Linked DNA regions of Homo sapiens: region 2 is linked to region 1. Evidence: fine-mapped expression QTL. Tissue or cell type: prefrontal cortex. Region 1 holds a variant in brackets; the other region holds the start of a gene. All regions are shown on one strand. Distances are between the middles of the regions.

Region 1 (8,176 bases):
AGTCCGCGCAGCAGCCTTCCCTTCCGTCCACGGCGGCAGTCCGGGCAGCAGCCTTCCCTTCCGTCCACGGCGGCAGTCCGGGCAGCAGCCTTCCCTTCCGTCCACGGCGGCAGTCCGGGCAGCAGCCTTCCCTTCCGTCCACGGCGGCAGTCCACGCAGCAGCCTTCCCTTCCGTCCACGGCAGACCTCTGGGCAGCCTTCCCTTTCGTCCACAGCAGGAGTCCGTGCAGCCTTCCCTTCCGTCCACGGCAGACCTGTTGGTGCAGCCTTCCCTTTTTCCGTCCATGGCAGGTGTCTGTGCAGCCTTCCCTTCCGTCCATGGCAGGCGCCTGTGTAGCTGTCCATGACTGCACAAACCTCCTGGGTCCAGGGCCGCCACTGGGTTATGAAGTGTTGCCTGTTTGTGCCTAGATAGGAAATGCAGACTGTTGGACAGGGTCAGGTTGTCCCTTCTGTTCTCCTTGGCTCAGAGTCAGCAGCACAGCCTGCTGGTTCAAAGCACACAACTGGCTGTATCTGAGACTCTGCCAAGCAGGAGCATTGGAGGGAAGGAAACACTGGACCTGGCAGTGCTATAAGGCAGGAGCTGTGCCACCACTGTCTATTAATGCACTGACTTCACACAGCAGGACTCTCAGGTAAGGCAGAGATGCCCCTTTATTTCTCAGGTTTCCCCTTCTGGCCTGGGTAGCATGGGTTTGGCCCACATGAGCCAGCCTGGGCTAGTATGAACCCATTCATGGGCCCAGTGAAAGGTATGGGGTGAAACTGTGATCTTCCAGGGAGAACATAAAGCTGGGCTTCCAAACTCCATGACCCACTGTCCAAAAGGAAACAGACTCTAACACCAAATGAGTTCCTCAATTCGAAGCCAGGTACTATTTTTAGCTTTCCTGTAGCACAAACCTATATGTTCCACTTTTGGATTAAGTCAGTTTGGAGAGGGTGCCTGTCACAAATTGTTGTCAGAAGAAGACAACCTGGTCAAGTTGAGGGGTCCAGGGGCTCCTGAGAACTAGACATGTGCAAAGGTTAGTGGGTTTGATGATCCCCTCAAATTCATGTCCTTCCTGGAGCCTCGGAACATGGCCTTATTGGGAAACAGGGTTGTTACAGATGTGATTAGTTAAGACAAGGGCATATGGGGTAGGGTGGGCCCCTAATCCAGTACGAATCCCATTCATATTCTCTTGTGAAGAAGAGAGGAGACACAGAGACCACAACACAGGGAGGAGGCACTATGGGGACCGAGGCTGACAGTAGAGCGATGTGTGTGCCCAACAGTATGTGTGTCCCGGAATGCCAAGGATGCCAGCACCACCAGCAGCCTAGGAGGGGCTGCAACAGATTTCCCCTCCAGCCTGAGGGCGAGACTGGACCACCAACACCTTAATTGTGGACCTCTGCCCTCCAGAACTGTGAGAGGATAAGTTTCTGGGCTGAAAGGCCTGACATGTGGTGCTTTGTTTTGGCAGCCCTGGGAAACCCATGTCATCAGGCATGCTGCAAAGGGGTTGGACCCGTTTCCCAGAAGTAGAGTGGGGAGCGGGGATGGGCAGGAATGACCGGGGGACCAATGTATCTCTGATCGTTTTCTGAGAGCAGTGTGCACTTTCCACGGCATGGTGGCTGGGCCCAGGCGCACATCAGCAATAGCCGCTACACTTCAATGCCCACCACATGCCAGGCTCCATGCCAGGGTCTGCACATGGTGTCTCCAATCTCTGTCCTCCCCTGTAAGGCGTTATTTTATTTAGAGATGAACTGACTCACCTTAACCCACATAATGGAAAAGGGGAGGAGCCGTAGCTTATGAGCCGGTTCCTAAAGCTGCTGCCAGGTGCTGCCCAGGAAGTCTTCTGCACTGGGAGAGATCTGGGATGAGGATCAGCCTGTGGGAGGGGAGCTGATGGTCAACAGCACGGGCAGAAAATTCGGCCTCATTTGAGAGTGGATCTGGATGTCTGTGGTCTTGGGAACTTCTGCCTGTCAGGGCTTCCTGTGTTCTAGGTTCACAACAACCCTGTGAGCTGGGCCTTCCCACCCCGTTCTGCAGACGGGGTTGGTAAGTCACAGGCAGCTCACGTGACTGGCCCGCAGTCACAGAGCAGTGAGAGGGGCCCGGGATAGGAAGAGTGGAGTGTGCTCAGCTCCATAGCTCTTGCTCTCTGCACCGCCACATGAGCTCCACTCTGCCATTAGAAAATTCCAAGACATTCTGAAAGAGACAACCAAGGGTACTCAGAAAAAGAAAAGACAGTTGCCCCGAACCACATTAGGCAGGGCTCTGCATGGGGCAGAAGCTTGCCAACTCCCATTGGGCAGCCGGGAAGCTCCCAGCCCAGGAGCCACAGGGAGGAAAGTGAGAGAGGAAGACATGAACTCATGGCAGCCTGCAGCATCAACATGAGGTGGGAAGAAAAGCAAACAGAAGTGAGCGGAAGCGTCCTGTCATGAGACCAGCCTGGCAGAAGCATGGGTGGCACCTTCCCATCTTGGGCGCACACATCGTAGGTGGCCAAGTCGTTCCCATGACGGCGGGCACTCCAGCTCCCAGGTGGGCAAGAAGAGGGATTCGGGACCAGACGCCAGGCCCTGTTCTCTCTTTCTCCTGTGGAGCGCGCCCAGCGCCTGCTCACACGTGTGGCCCCAAATCCTCTGTGTGCTCTCTTCACTTTATTTAATAAATGGAATCTCATCAACTTATCCTTCTCCTATTATCACTGCTGACATCAATCTGATAATATTGGCCTGGTGTGGAACTGGGCTATTATATGTCCTCCTGATACTTAATTTCAGAGAAACATCAGCAGGGGGGTGAATACATGGAGCAGGCTTTTTATTACAGGCAGCAGTAAGGAGATTCCGAGTGAATTAGACATTCATCTTGGTCAGGTCCAATCTAGCTGTTCAGGAGGGGTTTCTGCTTTAACCCGTGGCTAGGGCTGAGGCGCTGATGAGACCAGCTGGTTACTAAGGACTTGGTTAACTGACTGCTATTGACGATGTGCCACTCAGCCTGGGTAAGTGGAACCCAGAGGTCCTGCCATCGATCAACACGCCACACGGGATTGCTATCAACTGCAGGATGCCGGGCTCCAGCTGCCCCATCCCTCAGGTGGGAGAGGGGCCTGTTTGAGAGCTGAGGCTTGCGAGAGAGCCTGGGGGTGCATTGCTCCCAAGAGGGCCTGAGACACAAACGAGCCCCTGGCTGCTGCTTAGTGAGGCAGAGGCTGCGTGTGACAGGATTGTCCAGGACTATCCCTTCTCTCTCACACACACGGAAAGAAGAAAGGGCCATTCCTCTTTGTTTCTTTGTTGGAAAAAAATAAAGAATGCACACTTTCCCTAAGAGGAGATGCACCCTCATTCACTAGATGTCAGAGGAAGCCAGGTGGGGCGCTTTCTGGGCTTTGGCAAGGCGGAAGGAAAGGGCAGGGCCATGGTGGCCTTTGGTGCTGGGGGATGACGACTTCCAGCCCGCCTGTGGCTGAAGAGCTTTCTGGCGCTGTTTCTGCCAATGAGACTCACCATGGCAGCCCCTTGCAGCCATGGCCTCTGGACACAGGGGAGTCCTTGGGCTGCCCCAACCCTGCTCTGTGTGGGGCTGCGGGAGGCTCTTGAGCACAATCCTATGACGTGACCTTCCCTCAGCACTGGGTCCTCAACAAAGCAGGGAGCTGTCACCCAACTGGCACTGGGTGGGTCCCTAGCACTCCAGACTGTGGGTGGCTGCCTGTTCCCCACCCCCTGTCGTCTTAGAGTCCTTGCCGCCTCTCTGCTGGAAACTTTAGCTCACCTTCTGGCTAATTCACTTCCCCCCTCAAGTCTCCCCAAGTTTACCCCTTTAGTCTCCCCATGTCTCCTGCCTTGAGTCTCCCTGAGTGTCCCCGCTCGAGTCTCCCCACTCAAGTCTCCCCCCGAGTCTCCCCATGTCTCCCTACTCGAGTCTCCCCGAGTCTCCCCGCTTGAGTCTTCCCCCGAATCTCCCAAGTCTCCCCGCTTGAGTCTCCCTGAGTCTCCCGACTTGAGTCTCCCCCATCAAGTCTCCCCCACACCGAGTCTCCCCCATCAAGTCTCCGCCACACCGAGTCTCCCCTACACTGAGTCTCCCCGTCCCGAGTCTCTCTATTCAAGTCTCCCCCCTCCCAAGTCTCCCCTGAGTCTCCCACCTAGAGTCTCCCTGTTCCCGACTTTCCCCGCTCCCAAGTCTCCCCACTCGAGTCTTCCCAACCCAAGTCTCCCTGCTCGAGTCTGCTCCTCCAGCCTGGCTCCTTGCTGACATCAACTAGAGGGATCTTTCTGACTCATGATGGTGGGGGTGCTCTGGCCCAAAGCTCCCCAGAGGATGGCGCCCCCCACAGGCCTGCCCTTCCAGCTCTGTGCTTTGGCCTCAGCAATCCTGAAGGTCAGAGCTCCCAGAACCCGAGGGCTGGCCAGCTCCACACAAGCACATGGCCAGTTCACAGTGAGCCAAAGTCCTCCTCACAAGAGCCGCCCGTGCCTGCTCTGCTGCCCTGAGCCTCCCTCCTACCTGGCCTCTTCTCCCCAGCCTTTTCCACAAACTCCATCGTACCAGCCTAAAACGCCCCCGTAAAGACCTATGCTAAATGAATGTCCTTCCTTCCTTCAAGGGACAACTATTTACTAAGTGCCCATCCCATGGTGACCAGACTCACAAACAATGAAACCTCTGCCCTGCCCTCAGGGACCCCTCTCACCCACCCACAGCCACAAGGCCTAGAGGCAAGGCCAACTCCACAGCGAGGCATTCCGGCCCCTCTAGGACCCAGTCCTGAGGAGAAGGTAAGTCTCCATCCTGCCTGATTGTCATCAACTGCCCCCACGCCTGGGCCACTGGGCCCCAGATTTCAGGAACACTC[T/C]TGACTCCTTCTCCAATCTGCCCCCATGTCTGTCTGCTAACCACAACTTCCCCTGAAGGTTACCTGCCCTTCTTCCCGCTGTCACACAGGTGCTGTGCGTCTGTGTAGTCCTATGTGGACAGGCCGCCAGCCCCGCCTCTCTGTCCCCTCTCACTGGGAGGAAGTGTTACTGACCCAGTGTCACTTCTGCTCTGTGGCCTCCCTGGCCTGCTCACCTGAGAGGGTCCTGTGACATAGACCATCTGAGCACACTGCACCCAGTCATGTGGGACATGCTGTCTCCCCACTAGACAGGAGTGCCTGGAAGCCAGGAACCACAGCTTATTACCTCGGCTGTAAGGTCCTCACAGAATACTATGCAGGAAGCAGATATTCTATAAATAAATTGAGGTAGGCAGAGCATCAATAATTAAGTCATTGGGGCTCCACCTTCTTCCAGCTTCTAGGGGCAGAGGCCAGATCTGACTGACACACCAGATGTGGATGTGTGCAGTCTGACCTGGGGCCTTTGTAACCCGGTGGGCTGAGCCCTGGACCATGTGCCCAGCCCCTGGCTGAACAGGCGTCTGTCTGGGCCATGCCGTGTCCTGCATTCTCACCTTCTCTTAGCTTCTATTCCTGAACACAGCTCAGCGCCTATTGCCAGGTGTGTGGAAATTCTGTAACCTACCTCCTTCTCCCATCCTCACTGTGGATCCAACTTATCAATTCTTCCTTTCATGCACTGTTTGGCATTATATCTAAGAGTCATCATCAAACCCAAGGACATCTTTTTCTCCTATGTTATCTTCTAGGAGTTTCACAGTTTTGCGTTTTACATTTAGGTCTATGGTCCATTCTGAATTAGTTTTCATGAAGTTCATAGTTTTTTAAGCTGCGATAGTGTTTTATCAGCTGGCAGCTCACTCATAACCTAAAAGGAAAAACAGATTCCTATAGGGCCTCCCAGAAGACCTGGGCCCCCCATCTATGACCCTTTCCCCTCCCTCTACTGTCTTCCTCGAGCACATTCAGAAACTGGAGCTGCACAGAACACCGTGGTAAACCCTAAGTATTGCAAAGAAGAGCTCTCAGACACTGGGCCTCCTTCATTATGACAGCCCTACCTCGCTACCCCATCACGGACACCAGAGGAGGCCAAAGAGGTCCTCCAGGACTCACCTCTCACCGTACCTCATGTCACCCAGAAAAAGGGGGACTGCAGACCATGTGTTTTTAGGATAGAAAGCACCCAGAAAATGTGCCTCAACTTCTACTGCCACACCTTGGCTTTGGACCAGAACTGACTTCCCTTAGAACAACCACAGGGTCAGCCACCCGCTACTGGGGTCTGGCAAGACACCTGATACAACCTGACCCCAGGTGAGGAGGCAAAACGAGGCAGAGGGAAAGTGGACACATCCCACAGCCATGCAGAGGTGAAGGCACACTCTGTTCCGATTTCCTAACTTCCATCAACCTGAAGTCACGAAAGGACTTTGAGTTGTTTTCCGAAAAAACAAAGAATGAAAGCCTTGTCCTTCAATTGTCCTTTTCCCTCCCAGCAGAAGTCACAGGGAGTGGGGTGGTAGTGGGGGGCGTCATTAGGAGGTGGTGGCAGTGGCCTGCTTGCAGCTAAGGCAGCCGGTGGGGTCCAGGAGGGGACGTGGCAGCTGAAAAGGCGGCTGGCATGGTTGAGAGACTGGTTACATTGAAACAAAAGTTCACTGATTGAGCAAATACATATCCTGTTGAAGAAAACAGCCAAGTCTCATGCTCTATGAGAAGGGAGATTTACACATGGAAAAGGAGAGAGAGAGAGCCCTACAAAGAGCCTCCAGATATTAGAACTGGAAGTATCACTATGGACTTGTGAAATACTCCCCCCCACACACAGATGGCAGTCCTCACGCATGCACTGTGGATGTACATGCACACACATCTACATACACATGCACTCTGTGTACACACATCCATGTTTCCCAGCTCTTCCCACTGAGAGCACCTAGAAGCAATGACACCTCCATAGCAGGGAGCACACCCGGAGCTCAGATCCCAGAGCATGGTTTCTAGCAGCATCCTCCAACAGAAGGAATGTGGCTCCTGGGAGAAACGGCTGACTCCAGGGCTGGGGCAGAGAAAGGACAAGATGAGCCTGAACACCTTGCGCTAGAAAGTAAATAATGAAGAGACATGCCAAAGGAAGGAGAGTCAGTTTGAAGGGCAAAATCTATGGCATTTTGAATATTAAAATAAGTTATAGATTATAGCCCAATGAATAAATATGAGTCCTTGACTCCTTACTAACATAACCAAATAAATGAATAGTTACATAACTAAAGAGAGAAGGGGAAACTCCTCCTTTAATAGAATATCAATTCATAAATGTAGAAGAAATGATGGAAATAGATCATCACAATGTTCTCAATGGAAGCTAAGGCTGATGGGTGGAAGTTAGATGAGGATCAGGATACTGGCATAACACTGGAGTATCTCCCCCACAAAATACTAAGCAAACACAAAGGGAAAATAAGGCCTTCACAGCAGGGAGACCGTGGAGATACCAATGTGACCAGGTCTAGGTCAGCATCACTAGTGGTAGGACAGGTGGCCTCTTGAACCTACTGATGGGATGCACCTCACAAACATAGCACCAGTTCTGGGGTCTTCCTGCCAAGAATGCACGGCTTGAGTCTGGTCATGAGGAAACACCAGGTGGGCCAGGGCTGGGGCTCTCCCTACAGATGAAAGCCCTGCACTTTCTTCAAGTCTGTCAGGGTGGAGAGAGACACGAAAGAGTAAGGAACTGTTCCATATGAAGGAGCTGATGATGCATGACAGATTCCTGGACCAGAAAGGAAACGACAACATTAGGGTAGCAGGTGAAGTGTGGTCTGTGGGCTGACAGTCCTGTTGAGTCAGTGCTGATTTCCTCATCGGCAGCAGTGTGAGGTGACCAAGGAGGAGGTATTCTTGGGAGGCCCATGGTGCATGGAAGTATTTAGGGGTAAGGAGTTATCATGTCAGAAAAAGACAATGTTTTCATCTAGAGAGAAAAGGTGATGAAGCAAATTCTGTAACATGTAAAAAATCAGGGAATCTTGGTTAAGGAGATGCAGGAATCCTTTGTGGTGTTTGTTCTTACAATCTTTCTATGGGTTTGAAATTATTTCAAAATAGACCAACAGTGACGGCAATTTGATAGAACTGGATGTACTCAAAAGGACGCACTTATCCCCCAAAAAAAGAGTCTATCTAGATTTTCTTCTCCTGGCTGGGAGTGGGGTTGGGAAAGTTTGACAAAGTGATTCTAA
Region 2 (8,176 bases), 240 kb after region 1:
GCTCTGGCAGCTCTTTGAGTCTTTTGCCTGTGTCTCTTCCTTTCTGGTCCATTCTCCCTACTGGGCTGAGGTCTCTATGATGACAGGGTCCTCGGCTTTGTCCCTCATTGTCTCAGCAAGGCCAGGCCCAGTGCTGGGCAAGTAACATGAAGGCAGTGGACATTCACTGAGGTGAGGAATAACTGGCAGTTGCAGGTGCAGCGCTCTGGCACACGGCCTCTCTGGCACTGGCACAATGGGGGACTCTCTTGTGTGTCTGACCACATTCTTCTTGATCTTCCCCTCCACCGTGGTCCAGAATCAGCCTCATGGGAGCAATGCATGACGGTAAAGTTGATCAAGCCTGGAGGGGATAATGACTCTGGGAACATGCAAGTGACTGGAACAGGGGTGGGCTCAGTGGTGGGAAAGGGGGAAAGGCTGGTGAACAGTGAGCAGTCTGGATGCTCACAAGCAACCAACATCAGCTGAATCACCAAAAAGGGCGGCTCATGTGGAGAGGAGGAGAGGGAAGGCAGACACATATGCGCCATGACTGCCATGTGTGCCTTCTCTTACTGAAGGATGAGGTTAAATGTACTGGTTAAAACAAAATCTTTACGTATTTCACACATTTGCTCTGAAAACTGGAGTTGAATATAACTGCAGCATTTTGCATTCATTAAATTTCTTTTACCTTCCATGGAATTACGGTTTGAACACACTTTGTGAATTTATGCAAACTAAGTATGTAAACTAGCAAGGCCTAGCACTTAATCTTTTTTTTTTTTTTTTTTAAGACGGAGTCTCTGTCACCCAGGCTGGAGGACACTGGCATAATCTCGGCTCACTGCAACCTCCCCCTCCTGGGTTCAAGGATTCTCCTACCTCAGCCTCCCAAGTAGCTGGGTGTACAGGTGTGTGCCACCATGCCCAGCTAACTTTTGTATTTTTGGTAGAGGCAGGGTTTCACCATGTTGGCCAGACTGGTCTTTAACTCCTGACCTCAGGTGATCTGCCCACTTCGGCCTCCCAAAGTGCTGAAATTACAGGCATGAGCCACCACTACCAGCCACTAACACTTAATCTTACAGGGACGAGAACACTTTCTAAGACCAGGCCTCAGGAATTAAATACAAATGGTCATTAAGAATATTCAACTTGCTCTAAAGAAGCTGGGGCAGATCTTCTTTGGCATCTGCTTCTCATTAAATGAACTGATTTGTTCCCTTTGGCAACTGTTTTGTTGATCTGGCAATCTTTTTCACTCACTTGCCTAAAGACAAGGTGAATTCCTCAACCCTCAAGTAACTCTGCTAACAGAAAAAGCCTCTACACCAAAACATCCTTTCTTCATACCATCACCTCCTTTCTTCAGTTTTCCTCTTTCAAACACAAGCAGAAGGAAGGACGTGGCTCTCATAACGTGGGGCTGTGCACCTTACTGTGCACCTCTGGACAAGTCATTTATCCTCTCTGATTAGTTTGCCCAGCTGGAAAAGAAAGCAGTCAGTCACCAAAGTTCCTTCCAGTTTTAAAACTAAGTGGGGCACTATCATCCCTGTCAGGACAGGTATGGGTATTGTCACAAAATTTTCAGGCTGCCTTGCATACATCATGGGGGGGAATTGCAGAAGTGAGAAAAAGTTGCTTTTTGCACCGAAAAGATCTTAATTAAAGTCCCAGAAGTTACTCAGGTTAACACCTTGGGCAAATTCCTTAACTCCTTTAAGCTCAATTCTCCATCTTTAAATACAGAGAATTTATATGTTGCAGAAGTATTTAAGAGAACTAGAAATGAAATGTACCTGTCTTATATAATACTCAAAAAACATGAGGTTTCCAATCAACTTGAAAGAAGGCACCCCCAAAGGCACTCCCCTGAACCTCTGAGGACTCCAACTTAACTTTCCAACATTCCCCAAAACAGGAGACCAAATCACAAGGGTGAGAGCACCCAAACAGAGCCAAGCTTATCTTTCTAAATTCCAATTCAGGTTCCTCCCTCTCGGCCTTCCAACACAAGCCATCTCCTCCCCCATTTAATCCTTGCCACGAGTGAGGTCCACAAAACTATACAACGCCTAGCAAGCACCAAATGTGCCAAGTACTCTGCTAGGCTAAGAAGAGAGGCCTCCACAAAGCACTCTCTCTGTGCGTTTCCTTAACACTTTCACAGACATCATCTTATCCTAGGCAGTACCTAGGATACATACACACCCAATTTTTTTTTTAATGTGGCCATTGAGGCTCAAAAGAGTTTTTTACCCAAGGTCACACAGCTAATGAGCACCTGCCAGAACTCCTGAAGTCTGTCTTTCTAAGCCACCTCCCTAATTCCTCCTTAATTAACTAATTCATCTACACCCAGCTCTGTGCGTTTCATTTAATCCTAGTCCCTTTTACTGGGTTCATTCATCTCTCCACAGTTACTTACAAAGCACCTGCAGGTGTAGACACAGGTGGAGGAAGAGGCCGAGCACAGCAACATGCCCTGGAATTGGCTTGTTTCAATCCCAGCTCTCCCACTTACTATTTACATGATCTTGGATCAGTTCGTTCACCTCTCAGTGCCTCACTTCTCCTTAATCTACAATAATGGGCTAAATAGGGCTGTTGAAAATTAAATCAGTTAACTTATAAAGGGTTTAGTCCAACGCATGGCCCCTACACTGCAATAAGAGCTGCTTTTATTCTTCTGGGTTCTGGGGACAGTCTTCAATCAGACAGGAACCTTAGCCTCAAAAAGCTTACACTCTAGCAGTAAACGCAATAAACAAGTAAACAATTATCAACAGAAGCGATCACTGTGATGAGTGCTATGAAAATAATAAATGTTGGACGCGGGGTGGGAGGTTACTTCAGATTGGGTGGTCAGGGAAGGATTCTCTGGTGATATCTGAATTACAACAAGAATTACAAGAAACAGCGGGATTTAAGGAGAGCTGAAGGAGAGAGAACAGCCGGCGCACAGACCCTGAGCTGAGCCAGCGGCACCCTCCAGGAAAACACGGCGGTCCTGAGGCTGGGGACGAGGTGCGGGTGCCACGCGAGGGAAATGGCACGAGATGCAGTCCCAGAGGGATGCAGTCCCCAGAGGTCGACGGGCAGCGGCCAGCTTTGGAACCAGGGAAGGCATCATCCAAGCGCGCTAGGAACCCACTGGAGGGTTTCAGGCAAGGAAGGGGATCAGATCTGAGCTATGGTTCTTCCTGCGCCCCGCAGATGTGCTGTGGAGAACAGGCCGGCGGGGAAGAGCTGAGTCCCCAGGCAAAGCCCAGGTGGGAGACACCGCGTACCCAGAACGAGATGCGCGCACCTGAGGGGCCACGGGCTGGGAGGCCGGGCGCAAATTCAAGAAACGTAAAAACTAAGCCGACCGGAGCCAGGACGTGGCCAGGGCGTCCCTCGTGTCCCAGGGGCCTCGCACCTGTACAGTTCTTCACTCCTCCTTCCCTGAAGCCCATGTCGCGAAGCTCCAAGGCTGCCAGCCTCGGGCTCGCGTCTCGGCTCAGCCTCTTCCTGGCCTGAGCCCCCGGAGTCTCCCAAGCCCCACGCCCCTCACGCGTGGAAAGAGCCCCGGCCCTGCGCTCCGCCCCGCACCTCCCCCCCGCGCCCGCGGCCTCCACGCCCGCCCCGGCCCAGGCGGCGCCGCTCACCCGGACACCCTGCAGCACCCGGACCCGCTCCTCCTCGTCCACTCCGAAGGACACCCTGCGGCCCTCGCTGCTCTCCGTGCTCCCCATGGCGAGATGCCGCAGGGCCGGCAGCCACCAGACCCGAGACCCGGCTCCAGAGCAACCGGGCCAACAACGCTTTCCAGGACTCGCGCGGCCGCGGCACACGCCAACAAAGCCACGTCCTATTGGCCGACGCCAGAGGCTTCACCAATCGGGTGGCGCTGAGTCGCGGTGCCTTGTGGGGATTGCAGTCCTTCCGTCTGGAGGGGTGGGGGCGTGGCGGTCTGTGCCTGCTAGAGTGCGTTAGGCTGAGGCCGAAGATGTGTACCGGCGGAGGCCCTGGAGTGGAGGGCTGGGTGCAGGACAGGGTCACGTTCTCGCTTTGGGAGCTCCCCCTTGAGGGAGAGCCAAGGGTGATGTTCTGAGGCCAGGAGACGCCGAGACGGCCAAGGCGCTCATCTGGAGGCGAATTTCTGAGGGTTCACTGCTCCATTCATTCAGCAAACACGTGTAGAGCAGCACGGGCTGAGCGCCAGACGAGCAGGGACCTGGCCCTGGCATTACAGCGCCCCTCAAGACAGCGAGTGTCCTGCCCTTGAGAGGTTTACAGTGCAAGGGGAAAACAAGTGAAAAGCCAAACACGCACGCAAGGAAACTGACTGTAATACACGGAAAACTGCATGGCGATGCCACTAGTAAAATGAACAGAAGGAGGCCTCTTTTAATTTCAGTGGCCAGAGCAACCTCTGAGGAAGAAGCTTTGAACTGAGCCGGCGGGAGAGTAGGATTTATGTAGAAAAAGGTAGGGGAAGAGGTTTCCTGGGAGTCTCAGGCAGGAAAAGAGAAAGAGGGGTCATCCCATGGCTGGAAAGTGAGAAGAGGGCAGAGGAGTGGTGAGGACCCAAATCATGTCGGGTCTTGTGAGGCAGGGTCTGAGTGTGGGTTTTATTCTAAACGCCCCGGGAGGACAGGGAATGGTCCTAAGCCGTTAGGAGGCATTGCCCAAGGAGTGTACATACCATGTGTGGAGTGCAGTGTGCCAGGCATTGTGTGTAGGCTTCTTACACAGGACCCTATGTGTAAGGGAGCACACAGACGGTTGCCAGTCATAGACACTGCTACCTTCAAATAAGCCCCTTTTTGTTCCTCTGAGTTGCTGAATGGCTTTGATTTGCAAAAGTGCGCCTGAAGCCGAGCTGAGGAAAACTAGATGGCTACATGAAATAGCCAGAAAATATTTGGAGCTCCTATTGGCAACCTGGAAAGAAAGGGGTGAGGAGGAGAGAATGATTGAGAGAGAGCAGTAAGGCTCTGAGATTGAGAATAGCTCAGGGTGAAGAAGCTAGTAAACATCCCAGAGCTGGTGTGACGATGGAATCTTTAGGAACAAAGGTGTCTGCTAGTTTCATTCAAAATACTTCATTGGCGCACCCCACTCCATCACCTCTGTCGTCCATTTCTTCCCTATAAGCAGAGCCTGCGTAGGGGATTCTGGTGCAAGGAGTTTCCTGGGGGAGCACCTCAGGAGAAAGGAAGTTAGGGAGACAGGCTAAGAGGGGTGGGGACCGGGGGCCGCGGGGAAAACTGAGTAAAGATGTGGTCAGACCTGGTCCTGGGCTTTCCTTTGTCTCTTTTCCTTGGAGGTTTATGATTACTAATTCAATCTCCTTACTCGTTATTGGTCTGTTCAGATTTTCTGTTTCTTCAAGACTCAGTTTGGATAGATGGTATGTTTCTGGGAATTCGTCCATTTCTCCTAAATTATCCAGTTTCTTGGTGTATAATTGTTCATAGTAGTTGATTATGATCTTTTGTATTTCTGTGATATCAGTTGTAATGTCTCCTCTTTCATTTATACTTTTGTTTATGTGAATTACCTTTTTTCTTGGTTAGTCTAGCTAAGGTTTGTTAATTTTGTTGATCTTTACTGTTGATCTTTTCTGTTGTTTTTCTAGTTTCTATTTCTGCTCTCATCTTTTTTATTTCCTTCAGTCTGCTGACTTTGGGGCTTAGTTTGTTCCTCTTCTAGTTCCTTGAGATATAAAATTAGGTTGTTTGATGTCTTTCTTTTTTCTTAATGTAGGTATTTTTCGCTATAAACTTCCCTCTTAAAAATGTTTCTATTGCATCCTATAAGTTGTGGTACCTTGTGTTTCCATTTTCATTTGTCTCAAGATACTTGTTTATTCCCCTTTTGATTTATTCTTTGGCTCATTGGCTGTTCAGGAATGTGTTGTTTAATTTCCGCACATGTGTGAATTTTCCAAAGTTCTTCCTATTACTGATTTCTGACAACAAACTATTCAAAAAGAAATTAAGAAAATGATCCCACTTACAATAACACCAAAAAGAATAAAATATGAATAAATTTAACCAAGGAGGTGAAAGAAAGATGCACACAAAAAATTGCACACTAAAAATTATAAGACACTGTTGAAAGATACTATAGGAGACATAAATAAGTAGAAAGATAGCCTGTGTTTATAGATCAGAAGAATTAATATTGTTAAAATGGCTTTACTACCCAAAGTAATCTACACATTCAATGTCATCATTATCAAAATTCTAATGACATTTTTCACATAAATAGAAAAAACAATTCTAACATTTCATATGGAACCACAAAAGACCCCAAATCATCAAAGCAATCTTGAGAAAGAAGCAGAAAGCTGAAGGCATCATACTCCCTGATTTCAAACTATATTACAAAGCTGTAGTAATCAAAAGAGTATGGTACTGGCATAAAAATAGATACATAGATCAATGCAGAAAAATAGAGAGCCCATGCATATATGGTCTACTAATGTTTGATAATGGTGCCGAGAATATACACACTATGGAGAAAGGAAAGTCTCTTCAATAATTGGAGCTGGAAATACGGGATATCCACATTCAAAAGAAGGAAATTGGACCCTTGTATTACACCACATAAAAAATCCATTCAAAATGAATTGAAGACTTAAATGTGAGATCTGAAACCCCAAAACTCCTAGAAGAAAACATAGGTGGAAAGCTTCTTATCATTGGTCTTGATGATAATTTTTTTGGCTATAACACCAAAAGCACAAACAACAAAAGTAAAAATAAACGAATGGTATGACATCAAACTAAAAAAGCTTCTCCACATAAGAGGAAACAAGCAGCAAACTGAAAAGGCAACCTACAGACTGGGAGAAAATATTTGGGCACCATATATCTGATAAGTGCTTAATATCCAAATATACTCTATAAGGAACTCACACAACTCAATAGCAAAAATAAATACCCAATTTAAAAATGGGCAAAGGACTTGAATAGACATTTTTCTGAAGAAGACATGTGAATAGCTAACAGGCATATGAAGAGCGCTCAACACCACTAATCATCAGAGAAATGCAAATTAAAACCATGGTGAGATATCACCTTACACCTGTGAGAATCAGTATTGTAATAAAGACAAGAGAAGTGTTGGTGAGGATGTAGAGAAAAGAGAACCCTGCACACTGCTGGTGGGAATATAAATTTGTAGAGCCATTATGGGAGAGAGTATGGCAACTCCCCCAAAAGTCAATACAATCTAATAATCCTATTTCTGTATAGTTAACTTTAGCCTAAAGCTGCTTCCTTGTAAGTTCAGCCTAAAGGTTGATCCATACATAGTGAACTGTAATCTAACTGGATGTGTAAACAGACTGTAACCTACTCTTATAACAAGTAGCCAAGTCTCAGCCAATCAGAAGACATACTACTCACAGGTGGCCAACTGTTCGGTGTTCAAATAAGTCTGTAACCCAGCTGTAACCAATCTGGCTATTTCTGTATTTCACTTCCATTTTATTTATGTCATTTTCCTTTTCCTGTCCCTAAATCCTCTCCAACCCCACTGGCAGCACTGAAGTCTCTTTGAAGCTATTCTGATTTGGGGGGCTCCCTGATTTGTAACTTGTCCTTTTCTCAAACTCTTTAATCAGTCTCAAGTTTTTCCTTTAACAGTATATATCTAAAGGAAATGAAATCTTGAAAATATATCTGCTCCCCCATGTCCATTGTAGTATTATTCAAAATACCCAAAATATGGAAACAACCTGTGTCCATCAACAGATGAGCAGATAAAATGTTTTACACACACATATATATACATACACACACACACACACACGCGTGTTTTATCCAGCCATAAAAAAGGAAATCCTGCCATTTGTGACAACATGGACGAACCTGGAGGACATTTTGCTAAGTGAAATAAGCCAGGCACAGAAAGACAAATACTGTATGATCTCACTTATATGTGGAATCTAAAAAAGTTGAACTCATAGAAGCAGAATAGAACATTGGTTACCAGGGATTAGGAAGTGGGGGCATGGGGAAATGGTCAAAGGGTACAAACTTTAGTTATAAGATGAACAAGTTCTGGCCAGGCACAGTGGCTCACGCCTGTAATCCCAGCACTTTGAGAGACTGAGGCAGGCAGATCATTTGAGGTCAGGGGTTTGAGATCAGCCTGACCAACATGGTGAAACCCCATCTCTACTAAAAAT

Which allele goes with the higher level. Positions count from the first base shown, and alleles are read on the strand shown. Sizes are in standard deviations (SD) of each study's normalised expression.
For the expression in prefrontal cortex of the gene that starts at base 3,798 in region 2, allele T in region 1 goes with a lower level than allele C (small effect, 0.35 SD a copy in ROSMAP).

The links. PIP is the estimated chance that this variant, and not a neighbour inherited with it, causes the effect.
Region 2: it holds the start of CHCHD6, and the variant in region 1 is fine-mapped to the expression of CHCHD6 in prefrontal cortex (ROSMAP, PIP 0.95).

Annotation. Positions count from the first base shown.
Region 1 is chr3:126,941,489-126,949,664 of GRCh38, reverse strand. The region is part of intron 6 of CHCHD6 (coiled-coil-helix-coiled-coil-helix domain containing 6); the gene reads right to left. Among named protein-coding and RNA genes, the nearest start is that of PLXNA1, 38 kb to the left of the region's middle. The variant T/C (reference allele first, on the strand shown) is at 4,884.
Region 2 is chr3:126,699,862-126,708,037 of GRCh38, reverse strand. CHCHD6 (coiled-coil-helix-coiled-coil-helix domain containing 6) reads right to left here and starts at 3,798. Exons shown (of 8, transcript NM_032343.3): 1 at 3,639-3,798. The coding sequence starts at 3,725. RefSeq lists enhancers at 2,547-3,098, 4,159-4,218 and a silencer at 3,409-3,608.